Linked DNA regions of Homo sapiens: region 1 is linked to region 2. The links come from fine-mapping of genetic effects on gene expression. A gene starts in region 2. The other region holds a variant in brackets. All regions are shown on one strand. Distances are between the middles of the regions.

Region 1 (5,389 bases), 230 kb after region 2:
TAACCCCAAACATAATTAATTTGTTTATGTTTTCCTGGAGTTGGAGTCTCCATCTGAGTTTTTGTTATAAGATGGAGAAGGGGGCTATAGAGCTGTGCTAATTCCTTCTGAATTATTGTGGGTATTTTCACTTTAATCGAGCTGAACTCACATTTTGGCATGTTAAGAGGGGTAATTGCTTAATGACAACTTAGGAACTTCAAAAGTAGAGTATTGATTAAAGTATGGTACATTCATAGATTGAAATAATATGCAGCCATTAATAGGAATGTTGTAGATAAATATTTAATAACATGGAAAAATGTCTGTATTAACTTAAATCAGTAGGTTATTTAATAACATACATTGTGTAACAGTAATGTATGTGTGCATATAGTAAAGTTATATTACATAAAATTAAGTCATCTATTAATTAGGAAATCACTTATAGTGAAAATTATGCTTAGAGGTATTTTAATTCACCCATAAATAATAATACACAGTTTTATGTATACACAAACTACTGAGTAATTCTTATACATTTTGAAATTTGAAAACCATTGGGTTAGACTAAAGGAAAGAATTAAAGGAAAGGCCTATATGTAGATTTTTGGAAATTCAAACCATTCTGTCTTTAAACTAGCTATCAGATCCCTAGAAATCCATTGAAGATGGCTGGGTCAAGAATTGTGAAATGTTCCTGCTTTTCTTCAAGAATGATTCCCCTCTTTCTATTATTAAGCCTCTAAATATTAATTCAGTTAAATAGAACAGTTTGCTATTATAGGAATTTAATGAGGTATGATGATTCATATTGAGAAAAGCAATAAATAGGTCCTGAAATCTGTACGCAAGTTAAATGCTAAAATGCATGAATAATTCAATTCATACTATGCTGGTGTGTGAGAATATGTATACTAAACCCTGTGAAAAAGTATCAAATTATTAACAATGATTAATTGTTATCATTTAGTAGTATATTTTGGGTCATTTTTATGTGCATTGCATATTTTTGCATTTTCTGAATTTTCTACCTGAATGTTTGTTTCTATGATAATTCTTTTATATATATATTTTTAAAAAACAAATGATTGTGATTCTCCCTCCTCCATCTTTCTCCTCCTCCTCCTTCTTCCTTCATAATTCTTTTGTATATATATTTTTAAAAAACAAATGACTGCGATTCTCCCTCCTGCATCTTTCTCCTCCTCCTCCTTCTTCTTCCTTAATTAGAGCTTCAGTCCTGAGTAAATCTAGGCAGTAAATAGGCCTTGGGCTTAAAATAATTTTTTTTCCTATTGTGTAACAATAAGAGAATTCATAGATTAGATATTTGTGGGTTGTATGCACTCTGCCTTGGGTGAAAGTCAGGACAACCCTAGCTATTGCCATGATCCAGGGTCCTAGGTGATGGCTCTCTTCTTTAGGGGCAGTATTTGAGGTCAGAATATAAAGAAAGGGCAAAAGGAATAAAATAAAATTAGTCCCAAACAATTGTACAAATAACCCCAAATATGGTGGTGTTTTGTCCTCTTCAAACTGAGTATAAGTTAACACCTTCACTGTGGTAGAACTGGAAACTTCTGAGCTCAGATCAAAGTTTCCCAAGGAGTGTCAAAATGCAATATAACTTATTGGGATTTCTAAAATTAGCTTTCAGTTGATAGTTGTTAAAATAAAGACCCTAGTTCTTGGTCCAACTAGTGGGTTATCTCTTTACATTGAAGATCCTATTTTTATTCTACCTCAGCCTTCATAATTAAAATTCTTTCAACAGATTTGCAAAGTATACCCATAAATATAAAATAATGTGATGGAATAATTAAGTCATACTTTGAAAAAACAGTATTATGAATCCAATGTATAGACAGTAAATAAGCCAATAACTTAAACTCAACTAGAACATTAATTAGAATATAAACCTTTGCTAAAAACAATAGATAACATTTATTGGGCACTACTTTGCATCTAACACTATGTTAGATGTCTTACATCTTAATGTGTGTTACTACCACACATTAATCCTGTGTGATAGTAACTTTTTTATCCCCATTACATAGATAAATAAACGGAGACTTATAGAATGTCTTAGTCCATTCCTGGTGCTATAACAAAGTACCCTAGACTGGGTAATTTATAATCAACAAAAATCTATTGCTCACAGTTCTGGAGGCTGGGAAGTCCAAGATCAAGGCACCACCAGAGTCAATATCCGGTGAGGGCCTGCTCTGTTTCAAACATGGAACTTTCTCACTGCGTCCTCACATGGCAGATGGGAGGGCAGATCCCTTTAACATCTTTTATAAGGGCACTAACCTCGTACTAATCACCTCCTAAAGGCTGACCTCTTAATACTGTTACACTGGGGGTTCAGTGCCAACATGTGAATGTGAGGGAGACTCCAACATTCAGACCACAGCGGAGAGTTTAAGTGACTTGGCAGGAAACTAAGCTGATAAAATATAGGGTCCAAATTCTGAAGTTCATACTCTTTCTGTTACTTTTTGAGACAAAATCTTTTATTTCTAGAGAACAAAGCCTTGAGGAGGCCCTAGATATTGGTATTTGGAGAATTATTTTAATAAAGAGATCAAGCAATGAGAAGTTTCTTGGAGGTACTGAATAAGAAATGAAGAAAAGGCCAAGAAGGTGGGAAAAAAGAGGGCTCAGAAAAGGAACTCAAGGAGGAGCTGGATAAGCTGGGAATGGGGGGAAAGCAGCATGTTGAGGGTAGAGGACAGGACGGGGTATGAAGGGGAATTCAAGAAATGGCTATGAAACAGAAGTGAAGGGCATCTAGAGTGGTATTTAAGTGCACCAATGTTGGAGAGCAGAGAGAAGCTACATAAAGCCCAAACTGGTGGTTACGAGCGAATTTATTGATAGAAGTAAAATCTCAAATTGCATGCTTAATGTCAATCTAGTTTACAGCTTTAGGTAATGTAAACTAAGGGTGACAAATTCAGAACAGATGGCAAGAAGCAAGTCTTACAGACAGCAAATTACAAATGCCTGTGAAATGGACATCCTGAAGGGACAGCACTCAAATCCACT[A/G]CCAGGGAACTTCACAATCCCTATCAGTGATTTACATGTGACAGTCATGGGTGGAGGCACCCACTAGCAAAGCTTCCTCCAGTTTTCATCAAGGAGAGTCTGTTCATTCCTTGATGTCATTTGCTGACTGCATTTTAGGGGTAGCAAAATAACCTCCTGTTAGGAACATTGTGGGACTGACTTTTAAAAACAGATGTACTGTGATAATCAAATGGCAAGTCCCTTCCCTCAATTTTCTCTCTGAATGTTTGCTTCTGCTTTGGAAAATTGTTTGGAAATGTTTGGGCAAGTACTATGTTATACATGTAGTGTTCAGTTTGACGGAACTGTTTGACTAAAATGAGAATTGGAGGAAAATCAGATTTGGAAAAGTTTTCTTCTCCAATCACCTCTCAAATCAATATTATAAGGTAACTATGTGCTTTAAAGATTTAAAGATTCTTTTGATAGTACGATACAGCACAATGACAAATTGGATAGATGAAAGGCAGAACACTTTACTACTTACAGCTCCAAAGGAGAGAAGGTTGCCATGAAGGGCCACACAGAGGATTGCTCCTGGAGATGGGGTAACAGCAAGTTGAAAATGTAGCAGGTGACTTATGTGTGGCAAGTGAGAGGAAGTTAGGTTCAGGGGCTTCCTGGGGATCAGCTAATTTGCATAATTCCCGGGAGTTGGGGCATAGATGCTGTCCCTGCTTGTTTGGTACCTGGCCCTGGGGAGGTTGGGATATGTGCCTAGTTGCTCTGGAGAGTGGACGTCTGATAAGAAAAGTGGTTGGGTTTTGGGCACAGCAAACTGCCTGCATGAGGAATTGAAGAGTTTTCAACCATGACTTCAGCACTGAGTCCAGACGGCACTTGTGAAATATTATATTATCCTATTATGACTGCTGAAGTGTGGCAGCTTGAACCTGCAGAAACAGTTGTTTTTCTTGTTCTTTCTGCTTTTGAATTCTACATATGTAGAATTAAGGGCACTAAGACCCTTTGTGGTAAGGGAGGTATTTATATTCTCTCTTAGGATTCCACACTTTTTCAAACTGCTCCATTTTTTTCAGTACTATATCATTTTTTTCAGTCTACAAGGGTAGAAATCATACTTGAATTGTTCACTGATCCTTCTTTCTGCAGCTGCTTGCCTGCTCTTCCCTAATTTATTTATGCCTTTCTATTCCTACAGGTGCTATCTTAACTCAGGTCTATATTATCTCATAATTATTTTAATAGCCTCTTTCAGCCACTTTCCTTTCCTCTAGTCCAGGGGTCACTAAACTATGGCCTGCAGGCCAAATCTAGGCCATTGCCTGCTTTTGGAAATAAATTTTTATTGGAACATTCCACTCATTTGTTTATGTATTGTCTGTGGCTGCTTTCATGTTACAAGGGCAGAATACAGTCATTGCAATAGAGCCTACAGCATGCAAAACCTGAAATATTTATGGTCTGCCTTTACAGAAAAAGTGTGTCAACCCTTGTGTCTTGTATAAGATACTAAATATCCATTCAAAATCCTGATCATGTCCATCCAGGAGGTAAGACGAGGAGAGGAAGGAACTACATTCATTGAGAACTCCATGTCAACTCTGGGCTGGACACTTTGTGTGAGTAAAGCCCAGGTCTATAAACTCAGGGGAGTAAATGATGTAACTTCCCTTCTTTTTTTTCCTAAAACTTAATGTAATTTCTATTATGAAACACCATCCTCTTGGATGTCAGAAACTTAAATCCCTGTTAGTTCAGTTAATTCAGTCTTTCCCTGTCTTCTTTCCCTGGGATTTTATCTGTTCTCTGGGTGAGGGGAAGTGCACAGTACAGAGATGTTGGATGGGCAGATCCCTGTCATCAGCCTCACTGTTGTCATGTAATTGTCACTCACCTATGAAGACCTGCTATATTGTTTCTTGTTCCCATCCTGAAAGTCCCATTGGATATGCCTGTCTTTGCATCTTTTCTGCCCCCTTGGGATTTACAGAAAATGTGATATATTTCCCACTTGGGGTTGTAGGACCTCTGGGAGGCTGTGGGAGGCCTCATCCGCTTCTGTGTCACAGTAGGTTCATTTGATGTTTCTATTACTTTTTGGCCACACCGAGCCACAGGGATGTAGTGAGAATTTTTAAGGTTCTTTCTTCTCTAGATACGTTTCAATAATTTCTTCTTAGGGGTTTGCTGCCTCATGAGAAATGAGGCATAGGCCTCCTTTACTCTCAAATCCCATAAACGTACACAGTGATTCTCCATTCTCCCCAGAGCTCAGCGGGGGTTGGGTACCCATAAAAGGTTCTACTTTCCTTGCCCTGCAGCATCTAAATTGATGCCTCCGTTGTCCAGCCTGGAACATTTTGTGTCATTA
Region 2 (5,389 bases):
GAAAAGCCCTGCCACCTCAAAATGTCTCCAAGGTAACTTGTGCCCAGAATGTGCCCATGGAGTATTAACTTTAGGGTTTACATTTTTCTCCCTAATTCCTACACAAAGTCTGTGAATGAACACAATACCTTCTCTTCATGAATTTATAAAGGCCACCCTTGTCCTAGTTCCTAGCAAAGGCACATCTTCGATGAGTACTATTTCCCTTTTGATGATATGCAGGCAACCCTGGAAGAAGTGGCATTTTACACTGTCCAACAGGAATTAGATAAAAATCTGGAGAAATTTGTGGAGCAGATTGTTGTACCAGGAGAGAGCACATAGAAAATTAAATAAGTTAATATTTGAAAAGCACATAGTCAACACTATATAAGTCTTTTTAAATGGAGAAACAAAGTGTTACTGCTGTTATTGTTATTATTAGACATTAAAACATTATGCAGACTAGAACATTATTGCTTAAACTACCGAAGTTCTGATATTTCAAAGAGAAAATGTTTTACATTTTGGAAGTCTCCAAAATATAACATGGAAGTACTCTTGGCTTGAGGTTTATTCTATTTAACACCTTTCAATAGGGCAACATCTGGATGTTATCAAGGCTTGGCAAGATGAGATGCCAAAATTACAAATTCTGGAAATGCTGTGCATTAGGCACTCTTGTCTTTGCCTGTAATTGCCTTAAAGATATAAAAGAGCCTGATTGTAATAACTCCCCTAGTGTAACTATTCTTCATTTCTATTCCACAAGAGAAGATAGCAGGAAGTAATATCACTCTAAGGGTATGAGTACGGAGAGAAGGAGCTAATCCTTAAATATGTGTGCCCTGCATCTCAAATAAGCCCTGAACAACAGTGTGAAAGGATTACGGGTAATCTTATATATATCCCTTAACCTATTAACTGGAATAATTGTTGCACTAAGATAAGACGCCCCTAAGTATTCCAGGCTAGGTGGCCCTAGGTCAGAAAGCATTTATTATTTATTTCCTAAAGTCCTGTTCTCCAGTGATAGGGACGGAAATTTGGCAGACTGGGTCTCCCCTTGTCAAGCAAGTGAAATGGTTGTTTCATTTTTAATCTGGATCCTTTGCCCTGACAGATAAATCTGAAGAGTGCTGTTAAGAATGTGATGAATTGGGCTTCTGGTGATGTCTGTGGGAAAGGGAGCAAGATACAGCAGCCTGGAACTACTTTCATTGCACACAATTGCAGGTCTTTTAAAATGGTAGAGCCAACCATTGCCGAGAAGACTTAAGCAAGGAGAAAAGTTTGTCTCAAACATGCCTTGAATTCTGTCAGTGCACTTCATCTCTCATTTCAGGGAATGTGTTGAGGGTCTTTGGATTGAGCTGGAATGATGGAGAACACTTGAGTACTATTGTGTCTGAGTTAGTTTTGCCCCTGGGTACCATGACACTTTGTGAGCAGAGAAATGGGTGCTTCTGTGTTACAGTTCAACAGCTCTAGCTGGAGGTGAGCTGTGTAACACAGAGAGGGTAAGGCATGTCTGAGTCACTCTTGGTACCACGTGGCTAGGTACCATGCTGCCAAGCATAAAGATAAGCAGCAGTTTAATCCTTATTTGAGTAATCTGACCTGAGGAGATAGCCAAACTGTGTGATTACCATTCCCAACTAGACTTTTGAGATGGGCAGATCACCTGAGGTCACGAGTTCGAGGCCAGCCTGCCTAACATGGTGAAACCCCGTCTCTACTAAAAATACGAAAATTAGCTGGGCATGGTGGTGGGCTCCTGTAATCCCAGTTACTTAGGAGGCTGAGGCAGGAGAATCGCTTGAACCCAGGAGGCGGAGGTTGCAGTGAGCCGAGATCACACCATTGCACTCCAGCCTGGGCAACAGAGTGAGACCTTGTAAAAAAGAAAAAAAAAGAAAGAAAATAAAGAAAGAACAAAAGTGGTAAAGCAGTCAGGGTTTGGTCAGGAGACAGAAATCACAATAGTATAGTCATGAGCCGCATAATGACATTTCTGTCCAACACAGACTGCCTATATGATGGTGGTCCCATAGATTACAACACTGTTTTTACTGTACCTTTTCTATGTTTAGGTATGTTTGTATATACAAATACCATTGTGTTACAATTACCTACCACATTCAGTACAGTAACATTCTGTACAGGTTTGTAGCCTAGAAGCAATAGACTATGCCATATGGCCTAGGGTTGTAATAGGCTATACTATCATCTAGGTTTGTGTAAGTACATGCCATGATGTTCACACAATGATGAAATTGCCTAACAACACATTTCTCAGAACATATCCCCATCATTAAGTGAGACATGACTAATAGTTTGGACAGGGAAAACTTAATACCACATAAAAATAAGGAACTAATTAAAGGGTATTATCTACTAAGAAGTATAAAGGGAATTCTCAAGAAAACTGGGGTAAGACGCAGGGAGCAGTCACTAGGCATAGGGCTGAAAGACAGTATTCAAAGAAAGTATAACCTTGAAGGAAGTCCTTCCAGTTCAGTTTCAAGGCTGTGATTCATTTAATGTGGTCTAGTAGATGTCAGAGAAGTCCACTGAAGTGATGCAGGATGGGCTGCCGAGCAGGAAGCCACCTGTTGTGGTGAGGGTGAAACTCTTTGGAGGGTTTGTGTCATCAGGTCTTCTGCATGCCCCTACCAAGGGAGCTGCTGGTTGGCAAGGAGACAGCTCATTGTTTTCTAAGAACAGAGCTGGAACCAGAAGAGAAGCCCCTTCCTTGTGCAGTGTCCCTCTAGCGCCCTCTACTGACAAGGTCTAACATTGTGCCCGCTAACGAAAGAAATTAGGTCCAGCTCCAGTTATCATAATGTAGGGCAGAAAAGGGCATATGTGGGGTTCAGAGACAGTAAATTGGAACAGGCATAGGTGGGGAAGTAAAGGTTGTCTTAGAGAGGGGAGAGGAGGTTGGAGTGGGTGGAGCTGCGGATAAATTAGGATGAGACTAAGCGATGCACAGACCATGGTCCTGAAGTGTGGCTGAAAGAGTGGGGATGGAAAGGAGGGGGAATTAGAAGAATACTCAGGGGATGTAATAAATAGGTCTCTGTGGCGGATGAGCCAGAGACGGGCCAGAGGGAAGTGGCAGGCATGCTCCCTATGTTTGGTGGCTTTCCTATCTGAGAAAAATGGCAGGTTTGGGCTTCAAGGAAGATAATGAATTGTTTGGACTTCTCAATTTATGGTACCTGTAGACTATCCTAAAATTCAGAATTTCCTGGAAAAAGCACAACAGATTCAAATATTCAAATACCCAAATATGTAGTGGAGCTATAGAGTTCCACAACTGATACAAAACTCACATGCAAAGAAAAGGAATGAAAAACAAATTTCCACCTTAAGAAGAAATTCAACAAAATTTATTTTCAGAAATAAACTTCCTTCAAATTTATAAAAATCTAATGAATTTCCATTCAAGCTTGGAGCTGCAGTACTTTTTTATAATATGGGAAGTTGTAATTTAATTTTTTAAAAGATTGAGAGGTGGGATTTCACTATGTTGCCCAGGCTGGACTTGAACTCCTGGGCTCAAGGGATGCTCCCATCAACTTCTGGAGTAGCTGGGATTACAGGTGTGCACAGAAACTGTAATTTGAATAAAGATCACCATTAAAGTTCAGTGTATTTGTGCGTGTGTTTCTGTGTTTGGAGTTTTGTTGTTGTTTTGTACAGAAAGAAACTTAAAAATCTGTATATAATTTCCAACTGAATGAACTTTCTATATTAAACAGAGTAGAAAATATAATATTTTTACAGGCTGTTACATTTTATTGCAGGCCAAAAGCTGTCTCACTCTTTCTGTATATATACACATATACCCAAAGGAAGGAGGTGGAGCTAATGGGCTGAGAAGTCAAAAAACAAAACAAAACAAGTGTAATTTTTCCTTAGCGCTCATTTCTCGAACCACACATTGTAGCACTTGGTTGTATTTTGTATTTTTCTATTTTGTGTCCAGTTGCTTTCTGTATATAAGTCCTGCTTCCTCTTTCATACTTATTCCTAGAGGGCAGGACAGATACCACATGCTATTTATTCTTCACAATTTAATAAGAACTTATCAATAAAGAATTCATTTTTATTGTTCAACACAGGCTTACTAAGCATCATTCTGAGCCAACACATGCCTAGGTGATCCTTGGAACAAGCATGAAAAACACACAGTTCCTGTCCTTGAGGAACTCATGATTTAAATGAAGAAAAATGTAAATGAGACCATTTTGATAAAATATAGTTGGATGCTTAAAGTGATAATCCATTCTTTGGTCAGACTCTTGAATTTTGAATGGATCTTTGAAATAAGGATCCAGGAAGTACCATCCATTCTTTCCACCAAAGTTTGTGAGTTTACTGGGTATCAGACACAGTGTGGGATAATCAGAACTCCAGTAGTATTTATATGTAAAAATCAAATGAATGTTCCCATATTATATGGAATTGTACTGGAGAGGACATCAGAACAGTCTAAAGCTTTATAAACTTGACAAGAACGCTGGGAAGAATAACGAGTTAATCTTCCACAAAATGCTTTGAACACAGAAAGTACCAACATAAGTGCTAATTATTATTATTAGCCCCAAGACCTTTTTCCCTGTACTGTTAGATCCATCATAAAATTGCTTAACTTCAAGGGAAAGTATTGTTCTTTACATGAGCACTTTTTGTGAAGTCAAATGTTAATATATGCATTTATGGAAAAAACACATCTTTCATTATTCTTTTTATCCTCCCTAGAGGGAAGACATTGTGTCATTTATCTACTCTGTAAGGTCCCTAGCAAAGCAATGTGCATTTTGTTGCTCTATGTTGGCAATGGCTGGCTTGCCTTAAGAAGAAGCAAAATGTATATTTAGAATCTTATCTGGGGCCAGGCATGGTGGCATGCATCTGTAGTCCCAGGTACTGGGGAGGCTGTGGTGGGAGGATCACCTGAGCCCCTGGGAAATCGAGGCTGCGGTGAGCTGTGATCTCATCACTGCACTCCAACCTTGGTGATGAAGCGAGACCCTGTCTCAAAACAAACAAAAAAAATCCAACAACAACAGAAAAAACCCCAAAGAATCTTAGCTAGGACTACAAACTAGTGAGATTTAAAAATAACAGAACTTAGATAAACTAAAAATATTTGCATTTTAAAGTGGTTACCGGGGAGACTATAGAGTCTACATTATCAGAGATCTGTCATCACTCCAAATATTTTGGTTCTTGTCATCTGGAATTGCTTTCAAAACCACTTGTGAAAACCATATTAAAAGCTAGTGCCATTACTTCATTTCACATCTGATACACAGAAAAGAACATGAGAGACCAAAAGTGAAAAATATATCCAAAGGGAATGCTCTGTGTTGGTGTGTGCAAGGCTCAGAAAGTCAAT

Which allele goes with the higher level. Positions count from the first base shown, and alleles are read on the strand shown. Sizes are in standard deviations (SD) of each study's normalised expression.
As copies of G replace A in region 1, the expression in testis of the gene that starts at base 2,672 in region 2 goes down (moderate effect, 0.47 SD a copy in GTEx).

Evidence for each region. PIP is the estimated chance that this variant, and not a neighbour inherited with it, causes the effect.
Region 1: its variant is the best candidate, but not a certain one, in a credible set for the expression of LINC01065 in testis (GTEx, PIP 0.81).

The regions. Positions count from the first base shown.
Region 1 is chr13:53,382,941-53,388,329 of GRCh38, forward strand. No RefSeq gene overlaps it. Among named protein-coding and RNA genes, the nearest start is that of LINC01065, 230 kb to the left of the region's middle. The variant A/G (reference allele first, on the strand shown) is at 3,034.
Region 2 is chr13:53,149,229-53,154,617 of GRCh38, forward strand. It overlaps LINC01065 (long intergenic non-protein coding RNA 1065), which reads right to left and starts at 2,672. Exons shown (of 5, transcript NR_125788.1): 1 at 2,476-2,672; 2 at 129-276.